Homo sapiens: one gene and its partners. The protein of the gene in region 3 purifies or fractionates together with the protein of the main gene of each other region. This does not show direct contact. Each region holds a gene or a part of one and is shown on either strand. Other genes may lie near its edges.

Region 1 (3,690 bases), on a different chromosome or scaffold from region 3:
CACACATATACACACATATGCCCTGACACACAAGACATTGTTTTTAATGTCAAGCAAGACTTCCATTTGTATATGTTTCTCTACAAGCTACAAATGGAACATTAAATATGTCCTCAGAATTAATATGGAGTTACAATAGATTGTGTTTAAAGAAGCTAGTTTCATGTTTCTATTTTAAACCAGAGGTTCTCATATTAACTTCATATTTTGATAGCAAGTCTTTATTTAATTTTATCTGCCACAGAAAATATGCTTATTCAGCAGCTTCTGGTGGGCGACGAAGTGCTACGAAAGTAATGGTAGTTGTAACTGACGGTGAATCACATGATGGTTCAATGTTGAAAGCTGTGATTGATCAATGCAACCATGACAATATACTGAGGTTTGGCATAGCAGTAAGTGGCTTTTCTTTTCACTTGTCTTGCCGCTATTGGGTAAATCTTTCTTTATAGCATCACTTCTCAAGGCTGCACTTTCCCATTGGCTGTTCATAGTTGAATATAAAAGAAAGTTCTTACTCTATCTCTGCTTCTTGATGATTTTCAATCCTGTCTACTAAATAAAGGGTTATGGAAATGTTGCTTGATTTACTTTTCCAGAGGGAATATTGTGTTCAAAATAGGCTAGAATGTACTCATAGGGAAAATGTACAGCAGTAATGACTGCACATTCTCTTCCTCTATTTTCAAGGTTCTTGGGTACTTAAACAGAAACGCCCTTGATACTAAAAATTTAATAAAAGAAATAAAAGCAATCGCTAGTATTCCAACAGAAAGATACTTTTTCAATGTGTCTGATGAAGCAGCTCTACTAGAAAAGGCTGGGACATTAGGAGAACAAATTTTCAGCATTGAAGGTAAAAAAAATAACCTCCTTTCAAGAATTTTCTTCAAAATGTTTAAATAATTGTTTATTATCACATATTTGCTTTACTAATGTTAACTTGTATACCATGTATAAAAAGAGCTACTACAATCAGTAAGAGAAATGGATGAAAAACATGAATAAATAGTTTATAAATGATAAAATACAAATGACTGATAAACATAAGAAAATATTCCCAATTTACAAAGTATATTTCTAAATACTTTCAGTAAGTATTTAAAAACATAAATTAAACCGACAATATGTTTTGCCTAAAAGATGACACAGAATAATAATGTTTAATCCTGGAGAGATTATCAGGAAGCAAAGAAGCTCATACACTGTTGATAGGATGATAAATTGTTATGACTTTTGGGGGACAATGTATGAATATCTATCTATTAGAATCATAAATAGTTTTACCTTTTTACACTGTGTTATGTAAGTTCTAAAATTCTTGAATTTGTTTACAGTAAGCATATATATTTTTAAAATTAGAAAAATACAGCAAAGATTTTTAATAGTTCAGTTTTTGAGGAAGCATTTTATTTATAGGACCTAAAATAATTTACTTAGGTGGCCTTGGAAAATCTAGTTAGTGCAGAAAGATCACGTGTTCAGGAGCTCACTGTGTGGGGGACTAGCACACACTTCACAGTTGGTTAAAAGAAAAAAAAAACACACATCACCCAAATCCTAGTTCTTGATGGTTAACCCGAATAACTCTTTGCAATAAAGACCATATGTTATTGGAAACCTATGTATCAGGTACAGCCTTAGAGTCTGGGGCTAAAGGAATTGCATAAATTATTCATTCATATACTCAAATCTTGATTTGATTATCCATTGGAATTACCCAAAAAGCATTATTGCTTCTTCAGTATCCCATGGTGCTTCAAAGTTGTTTAAATAACCATTTAAATCCAGCATACCCTGAGATAACACAAAATCACTAGGCTATCCACACTGATAATTGTATTTGTTTGTAGTGGAATGAATGAGAACAATTGCAATCTACAAGCTAGCTAGAAATGATTTTGAGCATTATTTGCTATTATGGACTTTGGGGAACATTATTCTATTTTATTAAAAAGTATCTCTACTCATCCTGTGTAAATTATTTTATCTTCTAAATAAGACTATGTTGTACAGTACAGTTTGTCTTCTTTTCTATATTAAAGTGTGAGTCCAGTAATTTAGCTTCCTTTTGTGAAGATTAGTGAAACGTAGCCATTTTGATCACACTGTATGGAAAATAAGTACCAATTGCATCTTACAGTGTTAGTGACACAGGCAAGCACATATACAGAACCAGAACAAACTTCCCAATTGGTAAAATTCCTACTCAGTCTTGAATTCTGATTCCTAATAGCTAACTCAGTTATCTCCCAGCAGTCTTCACTACAGATCAATTGCCCAGCCCTTCCAACTGCATCTGAGATATGTGTACATTATCAGTACCCATATTTCAAAGCTAAAAATTCAGTTAGTTTCTTAGCTAGTAATGATCAAGTTTTTAAAAAATTATCATCTCAGTTTTCACCTTACCTTATACCCTTTGTTGAGTGTCCTTTGGTATCAAGAACGTCATACATATTCTGCTAAATACATTAATGTTCAATTAAAGTTAATGCCAACTTTGAACACTACCTTGGAAGTGTTGTTATTTCCATAACCTGCTAGAACACTTTCTTAGTAATTTCTTCTTCCCAGAATATGCAAGCTCTGTATTTTTGGGTGAGTATTGGAACAGTGTGTGTTTGTGTTTGTGTTTGTAGGCATGTGTGTACATACGTGCCTGCTTGTGTTTGAAAACTTGATTTAAAATTACTGACAGTAATACAATTTTTAAAATTGAATGTTCCAGGTACTGTTCAAGGAGGAGACAACTTTCAGATGGAAATGTCACAAGTGGGATTCAGTGCAGATTACTCTTCTCAAAATGTGCGTATATCAGATAGCTTCAAGCCATGTTGTCATTTGGCATAACACTTCCAGACACAGTAGCCTTATACATAAAATGGGAAGACAGCCATCTAGGGATCAGCCCTTCTGATTCCTAGTCACGGTCATTTAGTTTCTTTGTGCTGCTGATTTACCTCTAAAATTTGAAGGATAATAATGTCTTCCCTTCCCTGTTTCACAGGGATCTTATATGGGGGAAAACTGATAGTATACCAGAAAGTCTTTGAGTACCCCAGGGCACAGACTGTATATTAACTTAAGGTATTATTCCTGCAGGAATTTTCTTTGAATCAATTAACTACTGGAAATGTTTGTTAAAAACACGTACTCTTGTCATCACCGTCATGGTCGAATTCTGAATGGTCATAGTATCTTTTTCTAAGAGCAGACAGAAAAGAGTTGAAAAAATAAGGAGGTAGGAAAAACGTGAGGTGGAATTGGAATACAACACTGTCTTTTCAGCTCGGGGAAGTCTATTTCTATCTCTCAGAAACATCCACCTCCTGGGCCCCTGATTCTAATTTGAGTCAGGAGGTGAGAGAGATAGTGAAAGGAGGCGAAAAAAAAAAGAAAGAGATCCTGGGAATTATTTAAGGAACAGTAGGAAATCCCAGGATTTGATCGGCAGGTCAGAGGACCAAGAACAGCTTGTTTTCTATCTAGAATCAAAGGAACTGACTTTTTCTGGATCATCAATCCTTAGAGATGCTCATAGAAGTTATGGATCTTTCCCTCAGAAAAAATGTAAATGAATCTATGCACGGAGAATTTTGCACACAATCCCATGAGGTTTTTGTACATACGCTGAAGTCCTTTCATGCACCCCAAATCCAGAGTCCCTCAATTTACTACAGTCATTCA
Region 2 (3,690 bases), on a different chromosome or scaffold from region 3:
GCAGTGGCTCACACCGGTAAACCCAGCACTTTGGGAGGCCAAGGAGGGTGGATCACCTGAGGTCAGGAGTTTGAGACCAGCCTCGCCAACATGGCAAAATCCTGCCTCTACTAAAAACACAAAAATTGGCTGGGCATGGTGGCACGCTCCTGTTAACTCCAGCTACTCCGGAGGCTGAGGCAGGAGAATCGCTTGAACCCAGGCGGCAGAGGTTACAGTGAGCTGAGATAGCACCACTACACTCCAGCCTGCCCAATGGAGCAAGACTGTGTGTCAAAAAAAAGAATCCTACACTCTTACTGCCAAAGCACACATGGACACACTGTTTTGAAATAGTATTCTACATCATTAAGAGAATTGATTTTTTTTTCTCCTATTTACACAAGGTAACAGAGTTGGGAGGGGAAAAATCAGTAGAATCAAGAAGTGAGGCTACACAATGTTAAAATTCTACTTAGAATGATTTTCCATCCTTGGCTTATTATTTTCATTTCAATCACATAATCGTGAGATTGGAGGAGACTTTATGAATTCTCAGCCCATCCAACCTCCTCATTCTCCCAAGGGAAACTAAGATCCAGAGAAGTTCTCAAGCTTGGTCCAAATCATATGGCTATAATCCATTGTACATTTTGTCACCCCAAGGTGCATCAGCCTCCAGAACTAGAAAGCTCAGTATTTTTATATATGTGACAAAACGGCAGTGCAAAGTCATTCTAAAATCAAAAATACAAAAGTCATGTTTAGATTGGTTTCTTAGTCCAAAGCTGAAGAATTCAGGGTGAAAAAACATAAGTCTTCATGAAAAAACTTGGGAAGGTAAAACTTGAGTACGTCAGTTTTTCATCTTCATACAAATCAAACAGGATGAGATGTTAAGACATTTACAAATTTGTTTTGTGGTAGGTAATGTGCAGAATTCCAGCATTTTCCTCCCCATACCAGACTCCTCCTCATCTCGAAGTTTTGTGCCATTCTGCATCTACACCTTAGGGTTGCCAATACCAGATAATAAGGGCTACAATGGTAAGCAAAAAAGTCCCTGCCTCTCTGAAATTTTACCTCACTAGAGGGAAAAGACATCAACCTAACAATCTCATTCTTTCCAAAGACAATGATACAACAAGTGAACATTATTCAAATTAACAGAAGTAAAACAAGAAATCAAGGCCAAACGATCAGCCAAGAAGCAGCATTTAACAATTCTTGTGACCCTAGCTGATAATGAAACATACTGGAGTCGGTGTCCAAAGACAATTCTCTAAGAACCTTAGAAAAATTTGTTTTTGGCAATATTTTATTGTGATCCTGCTAAAACTACTTTACAAGGATTATTTCCTCCTTAAGTGACACGTTTTGTGAAACTATTATAACAATCTGAAATAATGTGCTGGGTCCTAAATGGGGACACCAGTTTTCGAAACACATTTCCAAAATAGATTGGCATTATCTGCTCGGATATTTAAACCATACAGAATAGATAGACTGCTGCTAATGAATTGGAAAAACACTAAAAACCTCTTCAAAAAGACCACACACCCTTCATTCTGAGGACTGGAATGGGACTGCTATGCTTAAAAAGGCTAATGAAAATCAAAATGCTCTGCAGATTCTCTTAAGTCAAAGGATAGAAAGAACAAAGGCTTACTTCAAAGAACTTCTGAATGACGTAATTACCAAACACATCCACCATGAGTTGGTAGGCAGCCTGGAGGATTTCATTGAAGACAAGCTGGCGCTCAGCTGGTGTGGCACGCTCCAGTTTCAGCTGAATGAATCTGAAGTACAAAGTAAAAAGGGCAATCACAGCACTGAAGGAAGACCTGGAGATACATCAGTGTACCTCGGTTTATAGACTGCATCCGTTCTGAAACATGTGAGTGAGCATGTGTGCACACACATGCACACAATAAACCAAACTTTATTTGAATGAATCACTTGAACTCCCTTGAAGAGTTTTTAAATAGAGGAAGAAGGTCCTAACTTAATTGAGCTTTGAAAATTACATATAAATGTTGGCACATTTCATTCCAGTAGGGCATGCATACTGAATCTTATTTATGTGCAAGGTGGGAGGGAAGATGAAAGCGGGGGGGGCGGGGGGGGGGCGGGAGGGGCAGGGGTGCAGGAAGAGAGGAGGGGTGGAGGGAGACATAACACAACATGTACCCTACTTGACTTTTTTCCTTTAGAAACCAGCCTCACATCAATGAACTCAAAGCTTACAGTCCTTACTATATTCTTTAACTTATTTTCATATAAAACAGTACTCATCAGCTACTCGGGAGGCTGAAGCAGGAGAATGGCGTGAACCCGGGAGGCAGAGCTTGCAATGAGCCAAGATTGCGCCACTGCACTCCAGCCTGGGCGACAGAGCAAGACTCTGTCTCAAAAAAACAAAACAAAACAAAACAAAACAAAAAAACAAAAACAAAACAGTATTCATTATCTTCTGAAGTAGTAACAGTCTGCCTTTTTTTAGTCCAAATGACCACTATCAGGAAAATCATGTTGCCTCTGAATCTAGCCTATAGAATTCAAATATGAGAAATTTTGGCCCAGTAGCAAGCTGGCAGAACTTAAGGAGGAGGTAGCTTCTGTAGAAACTGTTTCACTGGACACAGTATCAGAGAAAGAAACAGAAACAGAAATGGGAAAGAAGGATGGGTGTTGTCACCATAATTATGCTCTATCCCCAGGACCAGATTCGCTTTCTGTGAAGCCCACTGCAGCAGCCCAACAGGAAGGGGTAAACCAAACCAAATTCTGTCTTCTATAATAGTTTCTTCTCTCGTCTCTACATAGACTGTCACTTCTACAGAGTGGAACAACAAAGAAAGGTGGTAGAGCTGTCTTACTCCTCAGCACCCTAGATCAAACTTGTATTTGAATAGCAACTCTTTGAGAGCAAAAGATTCTTCATAATGCTTAAAGCAGCCGAAGTGTATGTATGTCTTTGTGTTCATGTTTGTTTCTTAAATCCCTATGAAATAATGTGATGCAAACTAAGAGGCACGCTTTTAAAAAATTACTATATGGCAATTTATTTAAGTAGATACCCATCTGAGCCAAGACAGTTAAGGCATTACAATTTCGGGTACCTTAAAGTGCCAAAGCCAAGTACTCACCTGGACCCATGCTGGTCTTGGGAAAATTCCATTATATGTCCAGCAATCTCCCGCAGTTGTAAATTGGGGTACCGGTTGTTTCGAAAATCTTCCAAAAGCCTGCTCCTGCCAGAAGGCATGACATCAGACATTCCATATCGCAAACGAGAGGAAGAGAAAAGAGTGCTGCTCGGGCTGAAGAGGCTGGAGGCGCTGCTTGCACTGCGGTACTTGGCTTCAGCGCCTGGAGCAGCAGAGATGTATCTTCCACTGCCATTCGTGAGTCCTCCTGTTGGTTACAGAACAGGATAACTTAAGACCACTCTTCAGCAACTTCATTCAAGAGAGAAAAAAGCATTCCCACACCCGAAAGCCTGCACCATTTCTGATTTCTTCAATGCTGTTGTTTTTGTGTCAAGACAATTCTATTAGCGTCATGACTTTCGTGGGTCAACTCAACAACCTGGAAGGAAACTTTTGCACAAAGATTGAGAAGGGAATGCTTTTACCGTTGATGGTAGACTGCTAGTAAGGCTGGAGCAACAGTTAGCATGGCCCCTAGTAAATGAAATGAGGAAGAAAT
Region 3 (2,528 bases):
ACTTACGAAGCAGATGCCGGCCTTGCGGCGAGGGACGAAAGTGCAAATGTTATGTGGCCGGCAGAAGAAGGTGACCACGGTGACATTGAGCTCCTGCAGGACCTGGGCTGGGGGGTCGTGGGCACCCACGCGGCCCCAGCCCATGGCCAGGCACTGGGTGCCGTGGGGCACTGGCTGGTCCTGCTGTGGCAGCTGGACTGTGGCGACGGAGGCACTGAGGTTGGCTGGGCTGCTCAGCTGGGGCAGAAGGCAGGCGGCGGTGAGACGCTGCTTCCAGGTCACGGTGGCCGCCCGGGCCGCCCTCCCACCACACCCACCACACCCACCACCTCAAAACGCCGCGGATGCCGCTCCCTCCGCCTGGGCCCCACGACCCCCTTTGTCCCATTTGTCACTATTGTATTCATTCATTTTCTTTCCTTCTTTCTTTCTTTTGAGATGGAGTCTTGCTCTGCCACCCAGGCTGGAATGCAGTGGCGTGATCTCGGCTCACTGGAACCTCCCGGAGCCATCCCATTGGGTGAGGTGGCCAGCCTGGTCTCAAACTCCCAACCTCAAGTGATCTGCCTTCCTCAGCCTCCGAAAGTGCTGGGATTACAAGTGTGAGCCATAGTGCCCGGCCATTCATTCATGTTTTCTTTCTTTCTTTCTTTTCTTTTTTTTTTTTTTGAGATGGAGTTTCGCTCTTGTTGCCCAGGCTAGAGTGCAGTGGCACAATCTCGGCTCACTGCAACCTCTGCCTCCTGGGTTCAAGCAATTCTGCTGCCTCAGCCTCCCAAGTAGCTGGGACTACAGACACCTGCCGTCACGCCCAGCTAATTTTTGTATTTTTAGTAGACACGGGGTTTGCCATATCGATCAGGCTGGTCTCAAACTCCTGACCTCAGGCGATCCGCCCGCCTCGGCCTCCCAAAGTGCTGGGATTACAGCCACCGCCCCTGGCCCATTCATTCATCTTCAAAGCACTTTTTTTTTGAGATGGGGTCTTGCTCTGTCGCCGAGGCTGGAGTGTGGTGGCATGATCACAGCTCACTGCAGCCTCAACCTCCTGGGCTCAAGTGATCCTCCCATCTCAGCTCATGAGTGGCTTGGCGTGTGCTACCATGCCCGGTTGATTTTTAAATTTTTCTTTTGTAGGCTGGACGCGGTGGCTCTCTCCTATAATCCCAGCACTTTGGGAGGCTGAGGAGAGCAGATCACTTGAGGTCAGGAGTTCGAGACCAGCCTGGCCAACGTGGCAAAACACCGTCTCTACTAAAAATACAAAAATTAGCCAAGCGTGTTGGTGCATGCCTGTAATCCCAGCTACTCAGGAGGCTGAGGCAGGAGAATTACTTGAACCTGGAAGGCAGAGGTGGCAGTGAGCCGAGATTGCACCACTGCACTCCAGCCTGGATGACTGAGTGAGACTCTGTCTAAAAAAAAAAAAAAAAAAAATGTCTTTTATAGAGATGGGGTCTCACTAGGTTGGTCAGGCTGCTCCCAAACTCCTGGCCTCAAGTGATCCTCCCATCCCAGCCTCCCAAAGTACTGGGAGTACAGGCGTGAGCCACAGTGCCCAGCCCCAAGCACTTACTGAGCACCACCTGTATGCCCAGTCCCGTTCTAAGCCACATGAGTCCAATAACGAACAACACAGACAAAAATCCTCTGCCCTGGGGAGCTGATCTTTCTGGGTGGGAGGAGGCTAGGAGGGCCCCATGAATGAGAGGAGCACGCGGTTCAGTGGAGAACAGTGAATCGGGGAGGGCTGTGGCTGTCCTCGCCACTTCCAGTGAGGTCAGGGGAGGCGCCGGAGGAGGCGAGGGCACCTGGCTTTCTGGGGGAACAGCACACCGGGCGGAGGCGCAGGCAGGGGAGAGGGGCAGGCAGGGGAGAGGCGCGCAGGGGAGAGGCGCGGGCGGGGGAGAGGCGCGGGCGGGGGAGAGGAGCGGCCGGGGGAGAGGCGCGGGCAGGGGAGAGGCGCGCAGGGGAGAGGCGCGGGCAGGGGAGAGGGGCGGGCAAGGGAGAGGCATGCAGGGGAGAGGCGCGGGCAGGGGAGAGGGGCGGGCAAGGGAGAGGCGCGGGCGGGGGAGAGGCGCGGGCGGGGGAGAGGCGCGGGCGGGGGAGAGGCGCGCAGGGGAGAGGCGCGGGCGGGGGAGAGGCGCGGGCGGGGGAGAGGCGGGGAGGAGGAGTGGCCTGGTGTCCAAGGAGCGGTCTCCCCCGGCCAGTGCCACTGGACCCAGGCTGCAGCGGCCTCGGTCGTGGCCCGGTATACAGTGGGTGCTCAATGAATGCTGGCTGCAGGAATGGGGGTCCCGGAGCCCTCTGGCCGTGCCCCTCCGAGCCCTCGCGGCCCTGCCCGCCCACCTGGATGAGGAGAACGTCGTTCAGTTTGTTCTCCGCGTCGTAGTTGTTCAGAAACACCTGAGCCACCGAGAAGTGCTGCTGGGTGGGCTCCTGCGTCCGCACGTTGTGGGCTCCGAGCACCACGTTCACCAGGCGCTGGGGTCTGCGGGGGTGGGGTGGTCACTCCTCGGCGCCCTGGA
Region 4 (3,690 bases), on a different chromosome or scaffold from region 3:
GGAAAAAAAAATCAACAATCTGGTAAAACATCAGAAGTAGGGAATAAAAGTAAACGACCAGTCATATTTGTATTTCATAACCATAATTTATGGGAATGTTTGTGTAATATTGTAGGAATTCAAAATCATTTTAAAAAAAATGGAAGTCTCACTTTGTTCCTGTTCAACTTAATAAGAACAAAAAGATTCTCCACTCCCTTCATCTTGCCTGTCCACTCAACTTCTTCCTTCTCACCTTTCATTACGGACAAGCAGACTCACTGATGCCCAAGAACATTCTGTCCTCAATAAACTCCAACCTGAGAGGTTAAGGGATTTACTCAAGGTCACAGGGAGACAAAATTGGATACATTTACTTCTGATTTGGAAATGATCATTAAAGCTCGGAAAAACAGGAATTTACTTCATTAGCTAAAGTATCACTCTCACATTTTAAGCCAATGATGCATCTTTAAAAAACACTATTTCTTTAGTGGACTTTGATAAAATCTTAGCTCTAAATTTAATAGTTTGAACTACCTCATTGATCAGGCCCTATAATCCAACCTGCAGAAGCCCACGCAACATGATTTGCTTTTTCACTTCTTTACCACAAGGAACACAATTCCCTCTGCTGGTCTTAAAAAACTAATCAGTTACCTACAGAAATACTACTGTCCACATATATGGGAAAAGACCCACCTTCAAGATACGACTCATAGTCATCTGGCTGCTGAAGAAAGGCCTTAAGATTATTTAAGATCTTCTGTTGCCGCAGGTAGTAAAGAATTTTTTTTGCGTAGTATTTCCAGGTCAAAGCTTTTCTGGAAACAAAAAGTCAGTAAGAATTAAGATTTGAAAACTTTCAGTTATCTATTTTTCACATTACACTAACATACCATGTAGTTTGCTTAACAAGAAAAATATAATTGGTTCATTCTCTTATAATAATTATAATGGAAATAGCAGTCTTTGAATTGTAATATAATACTAAATTAGTTGTACTGAAATCTGAGGAACAGTTATCTGCCTGGCTTCAGACTTACTTGCCTGTATCTTTCATAAAAGGAAATGGAAGAGCAGCCTGAAAAAGGAATTGAGCTGGGGGAGGTTCAGAAGATGGGGAGGCATCTAGAACCTTTTGCTGGTCCCCCTGCTTGGGCCACTTGGGCCTGGGCACTCACTGCCATGGTGAGTTCCTCACGGTTTCACATATTATGAAAACTCCTATTTTCCAGACCAGAGTTCTCTCTTGAACTCTAGACCTTTGTATCAACTACTATCCATCTACTCCACATCCCACTCAGATAGCTGAGCACTTTCATCTTTCTTCCCCTCCCAGAGTCACCCTCATCTCTGATCAAGGCATCTCCATCATTCTAGTGAGGCATAAAACCTGCGAGTCATCCTGGATGCCTTGCTTTCTCTCATAAGCCATACTTAAGACCTGTCAGCCAATGCTATCGGTACTATCTTCAAATTACATCCAAAATGTGCACACTTCCCAATTACTCCCACACACCACCATCAGCATTCCTGTGTTGCAGCAACATCCTCCTACCTCAGCTTCCCGCTTCAGACCTGGCCCCTCCACAGTCCATCCTCAATACGGCAGCCAGAGCACTGCAGTAACACGTACGGTCACGCCACCCAATCCTCGCCTCCAAGTCTCCAGCGGTTTCCCACCTCGCTCCAAGAAAAAGCCCAAGTCCTAAGGAGGACTTAAAAGGTCTCTTGAACTCTCGCCCCATTACCTCTCTGACCCCAATTCCTGCCACTCCCCCTCAGTCCAGCCACCCAAGCATTCCAGCTGTTCCTTTACTGTCTGGCGGGTGCTCACCTTAGTGCCCTGTTCTTCTGCCTGGAACATTCTCTCCAGAGACTGCAGTCTGTTCTCACCTTCTCCTAGGTTTCAACTCAAATGTCCCCTTGAGTAAGGCCCCCTACATTATTTTAAATGGTACCCCCTCACCACTCCCCTGCCTTCTTCCCCGATTATATTTCTCTATAGCATGTTTCATTTTCTAATGTAACCAATTTCTTAGTGCCCATCTCGCCCACTACAGTATAAGCCCCATGAAGGCAGGGATTTTTTTTGTGTTGTTCACTGCTGTATCCCTAGTGCCTAGAATAGCATCTGGCACATAGTAGATGTTCCATAACACTTGTTGAGTGGATAAAATTCTTCACCACATATCCCAAATACATATGGGGATTATAAGAAGCAGGAGAGAGACAGTGATGAAACTTATCTGGCTGACATCATGAAGAAACAAACAACTTGCCAATCTTGAGAGAGGTCAATGAAAATCTGCAGAATGATCTATGTTTCATCTACTTTTTAACCTTTGAGTTGTAAAATATATCAATCTAGAAAATTGTGTGAAACAAACAAGTAGCTTAATGAATCATTACAAGGCACATTCCTGGATCTAACACTCTTGCCAAGAAAGAAAACTTTGCAAACGGCCAAGAAGCCCTCCGGGGCCCCCCGCAACAATAATCACAAACCACACCTCTATGGTCATCACTTTCTTGCTTTTCTCTTTAGTATTACCATGAAATATACATCCCTAAACAGGCGAGTCTGTTTTGATGCCTTCTAAATCTCTTAATCTACAGGATCCTCCTCCATCTTTTTTTTTTCCCTTGCATTTTATTTGTTGAAGAACCTGGGTTGTTTGACCTGCAGTTTCCCATCGTCTGAAATTTGCTGACTGTACCCACATGATGTAGTTTAACATGTTCTTCTGTCTTCTGATCTCCTGTAAATTGGATGTAGAGGCTACATGAGATACAGATTCCATTAATTTAGCAAGATAATTTCATAGAAGGTAGTGCATTCTCCCATCAGGAGGCAATAATGCCTGGGTGTTTCTTTTGTGATGTCAGCAGCACTGCTACTCAATGTCTTGATCTGTTCATTCATTTGAGGTTACGAAGTGGTGATATTAAAATTCAATCAACCCTTCTTAATTCATTAGCTGGGATACTTCTATAAGGAAAAACCTCCCCGTCTATTATTTGATCCCCCATGATACAGTACATGGAAAAGGCAGGATAAATGCTCATATCTTCTATTTACAATTTTTCAAAACAATGATATGGGCTTCTATTTATCCTTCAAAGGTGACCAATTAATTTTTTAGTATTATGGACTCAGAGAGACAAGCATATTCGATGCATTTCAATCCATTCCTGTTATTATCCACACTGATGCTCTAACTGTCACATCTTTGGCCACTGGAAGCCTCTTCATATTGGTTCCTCAATACTTCCGACATAAAGTAGTGTCAGTTTTCTTACTATCTGGTTAGGTTTCCAGGATGCACCACCAGGCTCATCTTTTAAAATCCTTGCATTGGACATACAATCAGTCTTTCTCCAAAAACCCTGGCTTCTTTTGTGGAAAATGTTGTATCAAGATGACAATCTGGAAACCAGGGAAGATCAATTCCACTAGGTTGGTTATTATTTCTAGATCTTTTCAGCAAACAGACGTAGGAAGCCTAGTGTTGATGTGCACGTGTGTGTACATGTACATATGCACATGCACTTACATATACCTACATGTATTTAAATATAAAATACCTTTTGAGTTCACACTGGCACTTCTAATTCAAAAATATATGTCTCTGACCTTCTTCTATCTTATATCTATGTCTTCTTTATTCCAGGAGAATTCTGCTTCTCCAGGATATCACAGGTGGT

Evidence for each region. Proteins that work in one complex are often made in the same cells at the same time.
Region 1: the proteins of PRTN3 (region 3) and ITGA2 purify together in Homo sapiens (affinity purification with mass spectrometry; one large-scale study listed by BioGRID and IntAct). This does not show direct contact.
Region 2: the proteins of PRTN3 (region 3) and PUM1 purify together in Homo sapiens (affinity purification with mass spectrometry; one large-scale study listed by BioGRID and IntAct). This does not show direct contact.
Region 4: the proteins of PRTN3 (region 3) and FBXO21 purify together in Homo sapiens (co-immunoprecipitation; 2 studies listed by BioGRID and IntAct, with this or other methods). This does not show direct contact.

Annotation. Positions count from the first base shown.
Region 1 is NC_000005.10:53,055,294-53,058,983, forward strand, and holds part of ITGA2 (integrin alpha-2 precursor), read left to right. Parts: intron 1-244; coding exon 245-395; intron 396-690; coding exon 691-856; intron 857-2,731; coding exon 2,732-2,808; intron 2,809-3,690. UniProt on the Homo sapiens protein: Integrin alpha-2/beta-1 is a receptor for laminin, collagen, collagen C-propeptides, fibronectin and E-cadherin. It recognizes the proline-hydroxylated sequence G-F-P-G-E-R in collagen.
Region 2 is NC_000001.11:30,950,586-30,954,275, forward strand, and holds part of PUM1 (pumilio homolog 1), read right to left. Parts: intron 3,397-3,690; coding exon 3,129-3,396; intron 1,779-3,128; coding exon 1,649-1,778; intron 1-1,648. UniProt on the Homo sapiens protein: Sequence-specific RNA-binding protein that acts as a post-transcriptional repressor by binding the 3'-UTR of mRNA targets.
Region 3 is NC_000019.10:843,856-846,383, reverse strand, and holds part of PRTN3 (myeloblastin precursor), read right to left. Parts: intron 2,492-2,528; coding exon 2,350-2,491; intron 238-2,349; coding exon 7-237; intron 1-6. UniProt on the Homo sapiens protein: Serine protease that degrades elastin, fibronectin, laminin, vitronectin, and collagen types I, III, and IV (in vitro).
Region 4 is NC_000012.12:117,176,839-117,180,528, forward strand, and holds part of FBXO21 (F-box only protein 21), read right to left. Parts: intron 804-3,690; coding exon 682-803; intron 1-681. UniProt on the Homo sapiens protein: Substrate-recognition component of the SCF (SKP1-CUL1-F-box protein)-type E3 ubiquitin ligase complex.